Regions from separate parts of the Homo sapiens genome. Here region 2 is linked to region 1. The links come from fine-mapping of genetic effects on gene expression. A gene starts in region 1. The other region holds a variant in brackets. All regions are shown on one strand. Distances are from middle to middle.

Region 1 (5,330 bases):
AGAGGCCGACGAATAACCAGGTGGAGCTGGGGGCCTCCAGCTCGGATCCGCTCCACGGCCTGGGCATGGGTGAGGCCCTGCGTTGACTCTCCGTTGATGTGGAGCACGAGGTCCCCGACCTGGAGGAGTGCAATGCAGTCGTGTTGGAAAGGCAAAAGGAGAGCACCCCAACAAAGGCAGGGATAGCACCTACCAGTGGAAGGGGCTTCAGGGCTCACCTCCAAACGACCACAGCGCTGTGCTGGGCCATCCTTCAGCAGCCCGCGCACGGCCAGCGGAGTGTCCCCAGCTACATCCCGGCCCCCACCTAAGGTGAGGCCAAAGCCTGCGTAACCGCGAACCAGCTCCACAGAGAAATGACCAGAGGCCTGGGATGGCTTCGGAGCACTACGTGCCTTACCCTGGATCAATTGGGGAGGTGCGTTACATGTCTCTAACCAACGGTGCTGGAATAAAGGACACAGGTGTACATAGTTTGCCCTGAGGCAGGAGGCCTCCGATAGAAGGATGAGATGGTACCTGGGGCCGGTGATCCACAATAGTGGCATGAGGCAGGCGACTGTCTGTGACCTCTATGTCCGCAGAGTCCAGCACGCTAACAGCTGGGAGATAAAAGCAGTGGAGAGGGCTGTTGGGGGACATGCCATGGAAACTACCTAGGACCTGTTCCCTGAGTTAACATTCTAGCCTCATCTACTTGTCTTGCCCCTGCAGCTCATATACAAACTGGCCCACCATTTACGCACCATCCCCTCAAGTAATCTTAAAGGTTCTCAGCCCAAACAAATTAACTGTTCTGACCCCACCTTCTTAATAAACAATCCTGGGCTCAGCCATGTGAATAATCTTCCAGGCCTTCCTATCTCCCTCTAATAACACGCAGAACACATCCCTCAAACAACACCATTCGGCCCACCCTGGAGAATGCTACTCCAAAATTTGGCTCCTGAACCTTCCATAGCACGCCCTCTAATTAGCCTCTAACCCTCATCCCATTCCTGACATCTCAAGCCCCGCCCCCATGGGACTATAGGCTCCACCCCCGTGACTCACATTTCAGGCCTGCCCCTTCGCTGCGTGCCCGCCCCCCAAGCACTCTCCAGGCCCTGCCTCCTCAAAAAGGACCGCCGCCAGAACGGGGGTCCAGTTCCGCACTCTCATCTAATCTAGCCCTCGCCGACTGCAATAACCCTCAAGGAATATGCTAGAATAACCCCAAGGCTCCTCCCACTCGAAGCACCCTCCGATCCCCGCCCCAAGTCGCGCCCCTTGGCCCCACCCAAGACAGGGCAGTAGCTGCTGACCCCCCAGGCCTGTCCCACTGAACCCAACTCCTCTCCGAACCCTCCCCCAGCGGAGGCCCTGCGCCAGTCACTCACCCTCCTTCCGGCGCAGGCGCAATGTGGCGCCCGCCCTGCGTACCAGCGCTGCCACGTCGACCGCAGCTCGCGCCGCCAGGGGGCGCGCGTCCAACCGCGCCAGGAGCTGCCGGGCGCTAGGGCCCGCGAGCGGGGAGGGGCCGCGGCCTGCGCGCAAGAGGGGACAGGTCAACGCCGACCCTCGGCCTCGGCCAACCCCTATGCTTCCGGACGCTCGAAGACCTAGAAATGCCCCTCAGGATACCCGGCGACCCCTGGCCACTCCCTCGATAGTTTCGGAGGTCACTGCTGTCCCTCCCCTCACGCGATCCCCGACCGTCGCGGGTAGCCGGTGCACCCCCGCTTGCTCCCACGGTGTCCCTGGAGATCGCTGTTTGACTGCAATAGTCCTAGACACCTCCGAACACCCCGTGAGGTCCTCGACTGCCCCCTAATCACCCTGGATGCCCAACTCTTCGCCCGCGATATCTCAGGGGACCCCATTTCCCCAGATATCCTGGGAGAACACGGCCTGACCCCATAGCCCCGGAACCCCCAATTCCCCGTCTAAGTATCCTAGGCAACCGCTGCTACCCCCATGAATTCCCTCAGAGGGCCCGTTCCCCCCATGGCCCACATACCTCCAGAGTCCCCCTCCACAGGTCCCCAGGGGCCCCCAGCTCCCCTCCCCCCAGTTCACTAAGACCCTGAGTGCCCAGGTGTCCCCAGTGACCACGGGCAGACCCCTCCCCGCACATCTGCACGTCTCCCTGGAGACTCCTGAGAGCCCCTCCCCTGCTCTGGTGCGCGGCCCTTTCCCTCGTGTGTGGGTGTGGGTAGGGGACCTCCAGCCCAGCCTCCATCGCTGGGCCCCTGCCCCCTGCCACCTTCACTTGGGCGCCAGAGCCGCTCTGTTTACCACCTGTCAGAAGGAAAAGGTGTGGAGCAGACAGGCGGGACGGGGATGGCGGCGACTCGCCCTGTCCTTCCCCAACGACCCCAATCCCTGTACCTCCTCTGCTCCCCCTAGGGTCCGCGGCGTCCCCTGTGCGCGGCTCCATGGCCAGTAGTCCGCCGGGTGGACGCAGGGCTGCCAGCTACGAATTTTGAGCTCTGGGGCGCGCTCACCTGGCGGCCCGCCCAGGCCCTGGAGGCTGAAGCTGGCGGGTCCCGTGCCTGGCTCCCGGACCCGCGCGGTGACCTACCTGGCGGCCAGCAAGGAGGCCTGGCTGTAGGAGCCAGGAGGAGTGCTTGGCCTCACTCTGCTGCAGGCGCCGCACTCTGTTAACTAAAGGTCCTAGTTAGAATTTAAAAGCCTGACAATACCAACTGTTGCTGAAGATATGGAGGAAATGGAACTCCTATACCTCCGGTGGAAATGTAAAATGATATTGCAACTTTATTTATTTATTTAGAGACAGGGTTTCGCTCTTGTTGCCCAGGCTGAAGTGCAATGGCACGATCTCGGCTCACTACAACCTCTGCCTCCCGGGTTCAAGTGATTCTCCTGACTCAGCCTCCTGAGTAGCTGGGATTACAGGCATGCACCACCACGCCCCCCTAATTTTGTATTTTTAGTAGAGACGGGGTTTCTCCATGTTGGTCAGGCTGGTCTCGAACTCCCTAAAGTGCTGGGATTACAGGCGAGGCCCGCCTCAGCCTCCCAAAGTGCTGGGATTACAGGCGTGAGCCACTCGTGCCCGGCCTGCAACTTTAGAAAACAGTTTGGTAGTGTCTTTAAAAACTAAGCGTACACATATGAGCCAGCCATTCCACTCCTGCGTATTTATCTAAAAGAAAGCATACATTTACACAGCCTTGTCTTACAAATATTCATAGCAGCTTTATTTCCTGTCTTATTCATTTAGAACTACTGTAACAAAATATCGTAGACTGGGTGGTTTAAACAACATAAGTTTCTCACAGTTCTGGAAGCCGGAAAGTCCACGATCAAGGTGGTAGCCAATTTGGTTCCTGGTGAGGTCTCTCCTTTTGGGTTGCAGATGCTTGCCTTCTTGCTGTGTCCTCACATGGAATTAAGAGAGTGAAGGAGAGTAAAGGCGTGAGAGAGGCACACACAGAGAGAGGGAGAGATCTCTCTCTTCTGTTTCTTATAAGGTCACAGTCCTATCTGGTTAGGGCTCCACCTTAGTGACCTCATTTTACCTTAGTTGCCTCCTAAAGAAGCTATCTTCAGATACAGTCACATTGGAGGTTAGAGCTTTAACATATATATTTATGGCTGGGCACAGTGGCTCACGCCTGTAATCCCAGCACCTTGGGAGGCCAAGGCGGGTGGATCACCTGAGTTCAGGAGTTCAAGACCAGCCTGGCGAACATGGTGAAACCCCATCTCTACTAAAATATACAAAAATTAGCCAGGCGTGGTGTCAGGTGACTTAATCCCAGCTACTTGGGAGGCAGAGGCAGGAGAATCATTTGAGCCCGGGAGGCAGAGGTTGCAGTGAGTGGAGATCGAGCCATTGCACTCAAACCTGGGGGATAAGAGCGAGACTTCTCTCAAAAAAACAAAACAACAACAACAACAACAACAAATATATATATATATATATATTTATGGGTGGACACAATTCAGTCCATAATATTTGTTAATATCCAAAAACTGGAAATAACCCAAATGTCCATTAATAGTTGAATGAGGCCAGTAATCGCAGCACTTTGGGAGGCTGAGGTGGGAGGATCGCTTGAGCTCAGGAGTTGGTGACCAGCCTTGGCAACATAGTGAAAGATTGTCTCTATTTTAAAAACATAGAAACATTGTCTCTATTTTAAAAATGCTAATGCCTGTAATCCTAGCACTTTGGGAGGCTGGAGGTGGAGGCAGGAGGATTGCTTGAGCCCAGGAGTTTGAGACCAGCCTGGGCAACATAGTGAGACCCCATCTCTCAAAAAGAAAACAATTTTCAATGAAAAAAATAGATGAATAAATTAACAAACTATGGTATACACATACAGGGTAATACAACTCAGCAATAAAAAACAATGAAGGATTTGGATGAATCTCAAAAATAATTATGGTAAAACAAGCCAGACCCACGCTCCAAAAAAGCACATGCTGTATGATTTCTTTTATATAAAAATCTAATAAAATGCAAACTGATATACAGTGACAGAAAGTGGATTAGTGGTTGCCTGGAGGGAGGGGGCCAAAAGGGCAGGAAAGAGGAAATACAAAGGGCAGGAGAAAACTTTTGGCAGAGATAGTTATACTCAGTATTTCTTTTTTTTTTTTTTAAGTGACAGGGTCACATTCTGTCATGCAGGATGGATTGCAGTGGCACAATCATAGTTCATTGTAACCTCAAACTCCTGGGCTCAAGGGATCCTCCTGAGCAGATAGGACTACACATATGTGCCACAATGCCTGGCAAATTTTTTACATTTTTGTAGAGACTGGGGTGGGGGGGTCTCACTATGTTGTCCAGGCTGGTCTTAAACTCCTGGCTTCAAAAAATCCTCCCACCTCTGCCTCCCAATGTGCTGGGATTACAGAGGTGAGCCACCACACCCAGCCTGTTCAGTATCTTCACTGTAGTGATCGTTTCACTGACATAAACATATTCAAAACCTATCAAATTGAAGTCAATTATATCTCAACCCCTTCAAAACTTAAAACAGCTGGGTGTAGTGCATGCACCTGTAGTCCCAGCTACTTGGGAGGCTGAGGCACGAGGATCACTTAAGCCCAAGACTTAGAGGTTACAATGAGCTGTGATCATGCCACTGCACTCCACCCTCAGTGACAGAGCAAGACCCTGTCTTTAAAAAAAATAAAATATAAATTCTCAAAACAGGCTGGGCATGATGACTCACGCCTGTAATTCCAGCACTTTGGGAGGCCAAGGTGAGAAGATCACTAAGGCCAGAATTTTCAGACCAGCCTAGCCAATGTAGCAAGACTTTGTCTCTAATAAATAAATAAATACAATCTTTTGTTAAATTAATGAATTG
Region 2 (5,366 bases), 25 kb before region 1:
CATCTAATTCATCAAAAAATCCTGTGGGTCCTACCTTCAAAAAATATATCCTTCATCTTCCACTGTCATCTCTCCCAGACCTCTTCTCAGGTCTCCATTTCCATTCTGTTCTACTCACAGCATCTGGAGGGATTCTGTTAAATCCTAAATTAGGCCACAGTCCTCCTGTGTCAGAACTCTGCCCTGTCGCAGGCTGGGCGTGGTAGCTCACGCCTGTAATCCTAGCACTTTAGGAATGCTAGACTTGAACTCCTGGGCTCAGGTGATCCTCCCACCTCAGCCTCCCAAGTAGCTGAGACTATAAGTGTGAGCGACCATGCCCAGCTCACTTTATTTTTTCCATTTCACTTATTATTGTCACCCTATGTTATACGAGATAATCCACTCATGCATCATGTTCGCTGTGTGAAGTCTATCTCTGCTTCAGTATAAGCTCCACAAAGACAGGGATCTTTGTTTTGCTCAATATAGTTTATCACAAATGGCTAGAACAGTACCTGTTAAGGGACTATTTTTTTGGTTGGAGGAAGGAGACTGTAATCTCTTTGGTACCTAACCCAGTGGGGGCAAGGTCAGGTATATCTTCTCAGCAGAGGCAGCTGGGATGAAGCTGGCTCCAGGAAAGAAGAAAAGACATAAAGCCAGGACAAAGGCATAACAGCCCAACCCCTATCTGAGGGCGCCACCCATGTCAGACCCCCTCTCCTTTCTGTGTCTTTTGTCTCTACAGGTCAGTGAAGCCCAGGAGGACCTGGGGGGGGCAAGAGCTCAGGAGAAGGCCTGCCCCCCTTCCCACCCCTATACCCTAGGTCTCCACCCCTCAAGCCAGGAGACCCTGTCTTTGCTGTTTATATATATATATATTATATATAAATATCTATTTATCTGTCTGAGCCCTGCCCTCACTCCACTCCCCTCATCCACTAGGTGCCCAGTCTTGAGTGGGCCCCCTCTCTTACCCCGTCCCTTTCCCTGCATCCCTTGGCCCCTCTCTGTTTACCCTCCCTGTCCCCTGAGGTTAAGGGGATCTAAAAGGAGGACAGGGAGGGAACAGACCTCGGCTGTGTGGGGAGGGTGGGCGTGACTTCAGACTCTCTCCTCTCTCTCCCTCCACTCCTCCCAACTCTGGCCTTGGTTCCTCCAGCAATGCCTGCCTGAACAAAGGCCGTTAGGGAAATCCAACTCCAGGGTTAAAGAAAGGCAGAGATTGGGGGGGCTTGGGGTAGAGAGGACAGTTTAGGACCCAAGGTGGTCTTGGAGAGGAGGTGTGGAGTGGAGGGGTCAGCAGGGGGGTTGGGTTCCAGACAGAGTGGATCTGGAGTCTGAAGGAGAGGAGTGCGCTAGAGCATTCTGGGGTGGGGCTTGGAAGGGCGCTGAGGGCAGGGTTCTAGAAGGGGCGAGGCTTTAAGCGAGGCAGAATGGTGGGCTCCAGAGTAGGTGGGTCTTGGATTGGTACCAGAGCCTATGGAAAGGGTGTGGCTTGGAACATTTGGGAGACTGAGCTTGATTCTAAAGGGGACAGATCTTGAGCAAGGCAAGAAGTGGGATTCAGGAATGGGCCAAGCCAGGGTTCCAGACAGGGTGGGGCTTAGAATGGGGCTTCCATGGTGGTTTCAGAAAGGGCAGCCCCTCCCCATGGTGCAGTGAAGAAAATGTTTTACAATGGCTGGGTTTGGGCAGTGGAGAGGGGACTTGGATAGGAGCTTCCAGATGGGTTTTGTTAGGGGTGGGGGAGAATGGCTCTGGCTACGACTTGGGACGGAAGTGGCCTGAGAAGAGTCGAGTGATATGGCTTGTAGGGTGAGGCGTGGGATCCAGAGAGAAGCACCCCACCACACACACCCTTCCCCACTCCCGTGATGAAACAGCTAGGTTAATAGGAGGACAGAACCAACGGGTCTGTGGGACTGGCCCACCCCTCTTCCCCCTTCCCCTGCGCCCTCCCTCCCTCCACACCTCCACCCGTCCTGGGGTGGTTGGAGGCCTGGTCTGGAGCCCCTATCCTGCACCCTCTGCTATGTCTGTGATGTCAGTAGTGCCTGTGATCGTGTGTTGCCATTTTGTCTGGCTGTGGCCCCTCCTTCTCCCCTCCAGACCCCTACCCTTTCCCAAACCCTTCGGTATTGTTCAAAGAACCCCCCTCCCCAAGGAAGAACAAATATGATTCTCCTCTCCCAAATAAACTCCTTAACCACCTAGTCTACCCGGCTCTGATTTCTCAGTGTGTCTTTTTCGGGCGCCGGGGAGGAGGTTGGCCGGGGGAGAAAGGAGGGAGAGGTGGTGAGAACAAGCTCCACCCGGACCCACCGACCGCAGTTCAGCTTGCTGCACCATTTCAGGCCCCTTCAAAAGTGTTAGGCAGAGCAGCATCCTCTGGGAAGCCTCTCCTGCCAATCACTCTGTCACTCTCTGAGTAGCCCTGCTCACCCTCCCACTACTGGCCACCAAATGCCCGGTCTTTCTAGGAGTTGGTTCTAATTCTGGTCCCTTAGCCAAGCCTCTTCCGAGCCCCTGTGGAACCCTCTCCTCAAATCCCCAAGGGGTCCGAATAGGAGGAAACCTCACATTGCCTGACCCCATCCCTAATCTTCAGACCCTACTGTCTCTCCTTTCCCTGCCTCCGCCCAGGCTGGAGAAATGGGAGACAGGTTAGGCAAGGAGGGGAGGTGGGGCGCCGGGGTGACTCCTTAGTTCATTAGTTATTCTCTTTTACCTCTCCACTCCACGGGAAGTGACAGGGACATGTGTAATGGGGGGCGGGGAGAGGTCCCCGGGGCCCGCGATGAAGGGCCTGGCCGCTGCAGTCTCCGTGCATAGAGACCCGGGCCGAGTTCTGACTGAGGCCATGGGACCCCCTCCCCCCAGCCCGGAGGCACAGCCAAGCCTGAGAGCGTGAAGGAGAGGCTCCCCGCCCTGGAACTGAGCTGGGGAAGGGGATAACTGGAGAGAGAAAAATGTGGGTGGGGGAGGGAAGGCTTTAAGATCTACTTCTCAAGACTTGGGGTGGGGGGACGGGGCTGGACAGCTAGGCTTATAAGGATGAGGGGA[G/A]AGAGGGGACGAGGGCTTTGGAACCTGGCCTCGCTGAGAGGGGAATGAGAAGGGAGGAGTGCGTATAAGATCTAGCTCTCTGGTGGCTAGGGCCAGGTTCCCAGGTTCCCAGCGAGCACCAGCTGGGGCTGCGGGTGAGGTTGGGGCCCATTGTTGCAGCATTCATCGGGGAGACCCTCGGAACCTCACCAGTGGGGAGGAGCCAAGAGGTGTCTTTAACCCCTCTCCCAAATAAGCATCCGAAATAAATCGACACAAAACGTCAACACAAGCACCCTAGCGCGCCACCCCTCTCAGTCCAGTTGGCCACCTCTGAGTCTCCCCATCCTCCACTACAGAACCTTCAAGCCCCAGGTCCCGTGAGAGGCCACGTGGCACGCCGGGATTCTGGGGGTCGTGCCTTGTGACGCCCCGCACCGGCCCGGAGCGGGAGGGCAGAGGCCTTTCCCGCGGGGCACTCCGGGCTACGTGCAGTTCACCTCTAGGCAGGGGGCGCCCTGGCAGCGGAGAGACCACATGCCCGGGGGCGGGCCCTGCGGGGCGCGCTCCTCCCACGAGGGTGTCAGGTTTACGGAACCGAGTTCCCAGGCCGGACGCGCGGTGGCCTGACGGTCGCAAGGATTACATTCGCCTGACCCGGCCCGGCTTGACCCTGCCCGGGCGCGCCATGTTCGCGCGTGGGTCCCGGAGGCGCCGCTCCGGGCGTGCGGTGAGCGGGAGTCAGGGCAGCGGTGGGGGTCGGGGGTAAACTGAGGCCCAGGCAAGGGGGCAATGGATAGGCATAGCGAATAGGTGCCCCACAGAGGATCTGGGAATCCCATCCCCTGCATTCCCAGACCTGGGGCTGGGGCTGCTGGAGGCGAATGGATGGAGGAAGGTGTAGATCTGGTGGCCCAAACCCCCTAATCACCTCTCCACACACTTTCATCAGCACTCCTGGGACCTGGTGGGGACCCCTCTCTTATGAATTGTGGGAGGGAATCCTGAGGGCCAGAGAACTGGGTCTTGAAGCCTTAGGTTGAGCAGGAACCTCCTGAGCTGCTGCTTTTTTTTTTTTTTTTTTTTTTTGAGACTGAATCTCTGTCACCCAGGCTGGAGTGCAGTGGCGCTATCTCCGCTCACTGCAACCTCCGCCTCCTGGGTTCAAGCGATTCTCCTGCTTCAGCCTCCCATGTACCTGGGATTACAGACGCCCGCCACCGCGCCCGCCTAATTTTTGTATTTTTAGTAGAGACAAGGTTTCACCATGTTGGCCAGGCTGGTCTCGAACTCCTGACCTCAGGTGATCCGCCCACCTCGGCCTCCCAAAGTGCTGGGATTATAGGCGTGAGCCACCGAGCCTGGCCGACCTCCTCAGCTTCTAAAGGACACAGTACCTTGGAGGAATGTGCACGGAGGGATGGAGTCCTACACTCCTGGGATGCCGAAATGCTGAGAGTCAAGAGACTGGGATTTGGGGGGACAAGGCTTCCAGGGTTCCGCCTGAGCAAGGGAGTTTTTGACTTCTTAGATAGGAGGTTCTTTCACTTCCTTTGGAGTGGGTCTCTGACCTGGGAATGTGGGGTCTGGGTTTGATGGTCCGGAGAAGGAATAAATAGCCCTAGGATGGGATGGGTAAAGGCCAAGGTTTCTTGGGATGGGGGTTTCTGAATGGAGCAGGGGCCTCCTGAGATCCTGGGGAGGGTCCCCAGTTCCTTGGGTATCAGGGCATGAGGCCAGGGTTTAGGGGAGGAGCTCCTGAGCTTCTGAAGAGAGGGGCAGGGTTCACGTGGGGATCTCAAGGAAGAATGCGGTCTCGTCTCCTACCCTGTGGAACTGGAGTGCTGCTGGCGGCGTAGATGGAGAGGGAACCGGGATGAGGCCGGGGAGAGGATGCCCAGAGTAGGGGTTCTGTGCTCTAGTGGGGAGAGTACAATGAATTATAGGGGAGGTGCTTGAGCCCTGGAAGGATCTAAGGCTGGTGGGAGGTGTCTGAGGCTAGGGGCGGACGGGGAGGGGGGTCCGAGGCCAGCCTAGGAAGGGGAATTCCCTGAAAAGGGGACATATAAGGAGGTGGCTCCAACTGCCCCGCCTCTGCCTCGGTTGTGTCCCGCTCCCCCGCACTCTGGGCGCTGTCCCAGCCTGCCCAGCGCTGCCCAGGTAAGACAGGCCCCAGCGTGCGGTCGCGGGCAATGAAGTGGAGGGGCGGGCGTTGACTTCTCCTTCCCTGCTTCCGCGCCTCACCCGGCCCTGCATCTGCCCCCGCCCACTGCAGCCTCCAGAGGCAGAGGACCCAGACCGGGGCCAGCCCTGCAACTCCTGTAGGGAGCAGTGCCCTG

Direction of the effects. Positions count from the first base shown, and alleles are read on the strand shown. Sizes are in standard deviations (SD) of each study's normalised expression.
For the expression in spleen of the gene that starts at base 2,551 in region 1, allele A in region 2 goes with a lower level than allele G (moderate effect, 0.48 SD a copy in GTEx).

What was found. PIP is the estimated chance that this variant, and not a neighbour inherited with it, causes the effect. A credible set is the group of variants that fine-mapping cannot tell apart.
Region 2: its variant is the best candidate, but not a certain one, in a credible set for the expression of MAGIX in spleen (GTEx, PIP 0.66).

What each region holds. Positions count from the first base shown.
Region 1 is chrX:49,159,979-49,165,308 of GRCh38, reverse strand. MAGIX (MAGI family member, X-linked) reads right to left here and starts at 2,551. Exons shown (of 6, transcript NM_024859.4): 1 at 2,371-2,551; 2 at 1,380-1,526; 3 at 520-602; 4 at 219-446; 5 at 1-119. The coding sequence starts at 2,419. RefSeq lists a cis regulatory region at 862-1,362 and a silencer at 1,463-1,572.
Region 2 is chrX:49,184,647-49,190,012 of GRCh38, reverse strand. PRICKLE3 (prickle planar cell polarity protein 3) reads left to right here and starts at 3,640. Exons shown (of 9, transcript NM_006150.5): 1 at 3,640-3,757; 2 at 5,303-5,366. The coding sequence starts at 3,716. It overlaps SYP (synaptophysin), which reads left to right. Exons shown (of 7, transcript NM_003179.3): 7 at 731-2,198. RefSeq lists a silencer at 3,518-3,647 and cis regulatory regions at 3,341-3,881, 5,241-5,366. The variant G/A (reference allele first, on the strand shown) is at 3,049.